2 linked regions of the Homo sapiens genome follow. The protein of the gene in region 2 interacts with the protein of the main gene of each other region in a pairwise test. Each region holds a gene or a part of one and is shown on either strand. Other genes may lie near its edges.

Region 1 (3,751 bases), on a different chromosome or scaffold from region 2:
TTATCTTTGAAATTTAAATAAGCCCAATATAGCTTTCTGAGACCCGGTTCCCTTTCGCTCCTCCCCAACTCTCTTGCCCCTGCCTTTCACTGTTCTCTTAGAAGTCCCCTGAACTGTGCCCCTGCCCATCTCTGGGCCTGTTTCTGGGGTCTCCTTGCTTGTATCCTCAACCTCAGAATCCAGTCCCTGGCCTTCACGGGCCCTCTGAAATGCTGTCTCTTACACAAAGCTTCTCTCCTGCTTCTTCAGGCCTGAAGCACTCATACCTGTCGGGAGGTGGCAAGTCGTCATCTCTCTGCCACCTCCCCCAACCCCCAGGATCCTGCAGTTCAGAACAGGTCCAAAGACTCAAATGGGCCTGCAGCTTTATTAGCAGAGTTCAGTGACTGCCAGCATTGGGTTAGATCTCTAAGCTTAAAACCCCCTTCTCAACTTAGTAAACAGTAGTGTCCCCATATCTGTGGGATGGAAAATTCCAGAAATAAACAATTGATAAGTTTTCCATTGCATGCTGTTCTGAGCAGCATGGCGAGATCTCTTGCTGTCCTGCTGTATGCCTTCTTCACCACAAGAAGGGTGAGGATAGGACAATAAGATATTTAGAGAGACACAGAGAGACCACATTCACATAACTTTTATTATAGTGTATTGTAAAATTGTTCTATTTTATTATTAGTTATTGATAATCTTTTACTGTGCCTCATTTATAAGTGGAGCATTGTCATAGGCATGAATGAATATTTAGGGAAAGACAGTATATATAGGGGTTCAGTACCATTGTGATTTCAGGCATCCACTGGGGGTCTGGGAACTGTCCCCTGCAGATCAAGGGGGACAACTGGAATGGTTATTTTTGTTGTTGTTGTTACATTTTTTGTTTTGAGATCCTTGTAGACTCACATGCAGTTGTAAGAAATAATGGAGACTCAGGCGTCCTTATGTATCCGCGTACCCTTTACCTTGTTGCCACCCAGGATAACACTTTACACAACTGTAGTACAGCATCTCAGCCGGGATGTTGACATGGATACGCTTCCATTTCCATCGCCATTGCGCAAGGCTGCCTCCTGCTGCCCTCTTGTAGCCACAGCCACTTCCCTCTCACCCCCACCCCCTCCTTAGCCTCTGGCAATCACTAATCTGTTCTTCATTTCTGGAATCTCCGAATGTTCTATGAATGGAATCATACAGTATGTAACCTTTTGAGACTGACTCTTCGCTCAGCGTTTTTCTCTGGAGATTCACCCAGGTTGCTGAACTGACCAATATTCATCTTATTGGTGAGGAGTATCCCGTGCTGTGCGTGCATCACAGTCCTTTCATCATTCACCTGTGGAGGGACACCTGGGTGGTTTCTAGTCTCTGGTTATTAATGAATAAAGCTGCAGTAAACATTGATGTGCAGGTTTCTGTGTGAACTAAGTCAGTTTTTCTGAAGCGAATGTTCAATGCTGTGTCATACAGTAGTTGCATATTCTTTCTTTTCTAAGAAACCACCAGCTCAATAACTAATGCTGGCGAGGATGTGGAGAAAAAGGAACGCTGGTGCACTGTTGGTGGGAATGTAAATTAGTACAACCACTATGGAGAACCGCTTGGAGGTTCCTCAGAAACCTAAGAATAGAGCTCCCGTCCAATCCAGCAGCCCCACTGTTTGGGTATATATTCAGAAGAAAGGAAATCCCTGTGTTGAAGAGATACCTGCACTCCCGTGTTTGTTGCAGCACTATTTACAATAACCAAGATTGGAGCAACCTATGTGTCCAGCAGCAGATGAATGGGTAAAGAAAATGTGGTGCATGTACACAGCGGAGTACTATTCAGCCATAAAAAGAATGAGATCCTGTCGTTTGCAGCAACGTGGATGGAACTGGAAGTCATTATGCTAAGTGAAATAAGCCAAGCACAGGAAGACAAGCATAGCATGTTTTCACTTATTTGTGGGATCTAAAAATCAAAACAGTTGCCAACTCATGGAGATAGAGAGTAAAAGGATGGTTACCAGAGACTGGAAAGGGTGGTGGGAGGCTGTGGGAGAGGTGGGGATGGTTAATGGGTATCAAGAAAATAGAATGAATAAGATCTAGTATTTCATAACACAACAGGGTGGCTGTAGTCAATAATAATTTAATTGTACATTTTAAAATAACTAGAGTATAATTGGATTGTTTGTAACACAAAAGGATAAATGCTTGAGGTGATGGATACCCCATTTACTCTGATGTAAGTATCATACATTGCATGTCTGTATCAAAATATCTCACGTGCCCCATATACACCTGCTGTGTACCCACAAAAATTTAAAAAGGAAAAAACTGTCAGCTGTTTCAGGAGTCTCTGTACACATTTTATATTCCCAGTAGCAGTGTGTAAAGGATCTAGTTTCTCCACATCATGGTCAATATTAGGCGTTGCCACTGTGTTGTATTTTCGCCATTCTGATAGATGTGTGGTAACCGCTCATTGTGGTTTGAATTTGTGTGGCCCTAATGACTAATGTTGTTGAGCACCTTCTTCTGTGCATATTTGCTATCTGTATATGTTTTTGTTGAAATGTCTGCTCTCTTTTTTTAAATTTTTTTCCCCTATTTTCTAATTTGAGTTGTTTGGGGTTTTTTTGGTTGTTGTTTTTGTGGGTTTTTTTTTTTTTTAACTGTTGAGATTTTAGTTTTTAAATTTATTCTAAATAGTACTCCTTTGTGGGACATAACAGTTTGTGAATTTTTTTTCAGTCTTTTTGCTTGTTTTTTCATCATAACAGAGTCTTTTTAGGGCAAATGGTTTTTATTTTGATAAAGTTCAATTTATCAATTTATCTTATGGATTGTGCTAACAACTCTTTACCTAGCCCTAGAGCCTAAAGATTTTTTTGTTTTCTAAATTATCTTAATGGATAACTTTTTTTTTTTTTTTTTTTACAAATCAACATTTTATGTAGTTCAGGTGTACAATTTAATGTGTTACTGTATTTTATTTTTATTTTTCGAGACAGGGTCTCACTGTTGCCCAGGGTGGAGTGCATTGGTGTGATCATGACTCACTGCAGCCTCAACTTCCTGAGCTCAAGCAATCTTCCTGGGTAGTTAGGACTACGAGTACACACCACCACACCCAGCGAAGTTTTAAAATTTTGTGACGGAGGTCTTGCAGTGTTGCCCAGGCCTGTCTTGAACTCCTGGGCTCAAGCAATCCTTCTGCCTCAGCCTCCCAAAGTGCCTGGATTACAAGCATGAGCCACCATGCCCAGCTCAACTTAATGTTTTATTATACATGTACATTGTGAAATAGTGACTACAATCAAGCTGATTAACACATTTATCACCTCACATAGTTTACGTGTGTGTGTGTTGAGAACACTTAAGATATATCCTCACAGCAAATTTCAGGTCTATGTTAAATGCCTCCTAGTCTTACATTTTTTATTGAAGTCCATGATCCATTTTGAGTTAGTTGTTTTTGTAAGGTGTGAGATCCTGTTTACGCTTTCTGTTTTAACTGGCTTTCTCTCACATGACTTTGGTGGTTGTGGAGGGGCACGGCCTTGTTGCTGTCAGGTGGGGGCGGAAGTCCAGGCTCTCTACTCAGCCTCCATCCACACCTGAGGATGGCCACTTCTTGCTCCTGCCGGGCAGGGCTCCTGGTGCAGGTTCCACTGACATCACAGCAGGGGCAGCCTCATGACCGGCCTGTGTGGATGAGACCCCTGAATTCCTGCTTGGCCTTCTGTGACACCGTCCCTCATTACAGCCTT
Region 2 (3,751 bases):
TTAAGGTGTATATGGAAAGCATTTAGCACAGCACCTAGCACATAATAGGCATTCAGTAAAAGTTAGCTGTTTATTCATTGTTTCAGCGCTTACTTACTCAGCACCTGCTAAGTCTGAGTACTGTTCTAGGTATCAGCAGTGAAGGAAAGAAGACTTGGTCCCCAAATGTACTTTCTTTGGGGGAAGAGCTGGATAAATAGGCTTTGTGACTCTGTGTGCTGTGTTAGATGGTGGGAGGCACTGGAGAGAAAGAGCAGGACGGAGGGTCATGTCAGGAGGTTCAGAAGCCTTGCTGGCTGGGTGGGGTGACATTTGAGGAAAGGCCTAATGGGGTGGGCACGGCCATTGCAGAGCCTCTCAGGTGGGAGTTGGTGTTGTGTTTAGAGGACATCTGCCAGTGAGAAGCCAGTTGTGCAGAGAGGGAGTAAGGAGGAGTAGTGGGGAGGAAGCTGGAGAAGTGAGAGGGGCCAGATCCTGGAGGGCCTGGAGGTCATGGTGAGGACTTTGGCATTTACTGTAGTGAGATGGGAGCCACTGGGGGATTTGTAGCAGCAGAGTGCCAAGGTCCAAGGGTTATTTTGACAGGCCTCCTCTGGCTGATGTTTGGAGGATGGGCTACAGGGCAGGAGTGGGAGCAGGAGCCCAGGTGGGAAGTGATGGTGGTGGAATTGTCATGAGCTTGGGCCACTGTACGTGAAGCTGCCTGTCCAGTGCTCGCCCAGCCCATACCAGGCTCGTTTTCTGCCCCATTTTCTGAGACCCTGCTGAGGAGGGCATGCACTGGCTCCTGTGTCCAGTATGTCCTTCCATTCTCCTGACTTTGTGGGCTATTTTCAGTCTCCAGATGAAGAAACCAGTTCTTAGAAAGGTGAAGCCCCTGGCGCAGTTCCCCAGCAGGTGTTTCAGTGCTGTGGCAGGAAGGTTTTTTGATAGAAACAGCCTCAGGCCAGAGAAGTCGGCCTGAGCTGTGGATTCCTTGGGAGAAATGGGCTTTTTGCCTGCCTGCAGCCTCTGGTTTCGGCTGGAATTGGCCTTTCAAGGAGCAAAGTGTGGATCTCATCTCCTTGAGCACAGTCATGGGCAGTCAGAAGGCATCGGGGGCCCTCATGATGTCTGGGTGAAGAAAATCACTCAGCCCTTAATCAAACTTGGTCCAGGGCTGGGATCAGAAGAAGAAACCCCACTTCACACTTGACTGCTTGGAGTGAAGCACTTCGAAAGGAAGCTGCCTGGGAAGTCCCAGAAGGGAAGGGGCAGGGAGGGAAGGGGACAGGGTGAGAGCAGGTCTCACTCATCCCAATCCCAGCCAGGATTGGGTCAGGGCCCCCAGCGCTTACCTGCAGGCAAGGTGCTGCTCCACGACCTTCTCCAGCTGCTGCCGCTGCTGAATCTGTTTCCCTCCCTGAAACGTAGCCCTGTCTCTCAGCTGGCTTCCTGATCTGGGAAGGGTGGTGCCTGTCCCCTGTTCAGCTGACTCACCTTGGACTGGGATGGGCACAGGTGAGGGCTGTGGCTGGGTAAACAAGGCAGGTTGCCAGCCCAGAGGAGGCCTTTGGCCTTAGTCTGGATTTGGAGGTGGGATTAAGGCCCTCACAGCTGCTGTTCAGACGGTTATGAACCAAGACTTCTTGGCCTTTTCTTAAATAGCTCTAAATTTGGGTTGGACACCTAGTCCTGCTGATCGAGGCAGTTGGCTAGAGGGCGGTTTGTGATAGGTATCTAGGGGTCTAGGCCAGGATATTAAAAAGTGGTCATATCCTGTGACCCAGCATTTCTTCTAGGAATTTGTTACAGTGGAGTCACAGGGCCCATCCATCACTGCTGCTTCTAGTAAGGAAAATGTAGAAATCCCAAATGCCCATCTCTGTGGTCTGCTTGAATAAATCATTGTCTGTGGAAGATCACAGAGCTATTAAAGTCACTTAAGGAAGAAGGTATGAGGAAACATTTCTGAGATTCTAGTGAGATGTTGAAAAATCAATATTGTGAATCTCTTCTTGCATTTTGTTTTCATTTTTTGTAAAGTGGATGTGCGTTGAAAGCAGTCTAGGAGGACATACGCTAAAATGCTGAGTATCTCTGAATGGCAGCATTGAGGGTGAGGTTTTCAGTTTGTACTTTTGTGTGTTCCAAGGTGGTTTTTTTTTTTTTAAGTTAGCTTTTGCTCTGAATGCTCATGACTTTTGTAAGGGGGAAGCAATTAAGTTTGATTATTTTAATGGGAATTTAGAGTGGTTGTCTCTTGGGAGCAGACCTAAGGAGCTGTGTGCTGAGGTGGAGATTTTTTTTTTTATGGCACATTTTTGGTGTCTTAAATTTTGAAAAGTTTAAATGTACTACTTATTCCAAAAATAATTATATAAATTTGAACAGAAAAGGAGGAAGAATTTAGTTTAGATCCTGGTGGGTTTGGTTGGGTGAGGGTGCCTGTCGCACTGGGTGCCTGGGGAGGGACGAGGGACTCGTGTGCTGGGCAGTCCCATGAGGATTGACGCTGTACACACTCAGGGTGTGTCAGTATCTGGGCTGCTTCCTGGGCCAGGCAGGCCTACGTCACAGTTCCCATGACCCACCTGGCAGAGTTGCACTAGCCTTGGGTGTCAGATCTTGTGCCTGCCAATGAAGAGCTTACAGCCCAGAGTCCCACACAGGAAACACACAATAGGAATAATAACAAGAAAGACATTTGCCACTAATTCAGCACTTACTCCCAGAGAGCACAGAGATTCTACCCCTGGCACTTTAAAGGCATTATCTCAATGGCTTCTCATGCCATCCCTGCAGAGTAGGTGTGACTCACACCATTCCTCCAGGTGGGGACACTGAGGCACAGAGGCAAAGTTTCTCTCTCAAGTTAGCTGGAAAGTGGGCCAAGTTCATGTCTTCTCTTCTATGGGACATACTGTTTCAGAAAGCTGAGGTGTGGGGCAACCTCAGAGTAAGCTGTGTGGGCCTGAAGCTGAGGTAACGTGGGTGATGGACCCACCTTAGGTCAGGTGTCCAAGGCCAAAGCAAAGTGGAAAATAGAGATCCTAACTAAACCAAGCCACTCCTCCCCCACCTCACTTCATTCAGTCATGACCTGAAAGGGCCTTTATAGAAGAGGGAGGAGGAAGCAGGCCCTTCCAGGTAAGGGGCTTGCCTGTGGTCCCAGCATGTCAGCATGGAGCCCAGGTCCCCTAACTCCCACCTATTTAATACCTACAGGGACTCTCTTTCTATTCCCTCTTTGGATAGTTGCCACCCATCACTGACTTCCAGCCACCTGGAAATATCTTTCATTGGGCATGCCCTTGCTCGAACTCTTCAGTGGCTCCCTCCTGCTTCAGGGTCTGGGCTAAACTCCCAGGGCTGACATGGAGACCTCCACAGCCCACTCCCTTTATTACCTCCTCAGCACTCCCCCAGCACCTCTGCCTCAGCTGGACTGGGAGCCCCACCATTCCTGCCCCACTGCACACCCACTTCCTACCTGCCCTGACTCCATACCTTTGCCTGTCCTGCTGCTGCCCCTGGAACACCTTCTCCTGCCCCCACCCACCTAGCCACATCCACCACTGAGCTCCTCCAGGAAGCCTCTGGGATCCCCCACATCCATGTGGCCTCTCCCGCCTCTGACTCTGGATCAGACGCTCCTGTTCCATTCTTTAATAATCATCATCTTGTACTCATGTGTACCTTTTAGGCTACTAGTTAGACCCTAAGTTCCCTGAGGGCAGGGCCAAGTTATTAGCTCTACAGTGGTCATTCT

What was found. The genes of interacting proteins can lie anywhere in the genome.
Region 1: the proteins of SDCBP2 (region 2) and LYAR interact in binary tests that used the Homo sapiens proteins (3 or more experiments, as listed by UniProt).

What each region holds. Positions count from the first base shown.
Region 1 is NC_000004.12:4,269,435-4,273,185, reverse strand, and holds part of LYAR (cell growth-regulating nucleolar protein), read left to right. Parts: intron 1-3,751. UniProt on the Homo sapiens protein: Plays a role in the maintenance of the appropriate processing of 47S/45S pre-rRNA to 32S/30S pre-rRNAs and their subsequent processing to produce 18S and 28S rRNAs. Also acts at the level of transcription regulation.
Region 2 is NC_000020.11:1,327,748-1,331,498, forward strand, and holds the start of SDCBP2 (syntenin-2), read right to left. Parts: upstream 1,393-3,751; 5' UTR 1,338-1,392; intron 1-1,337.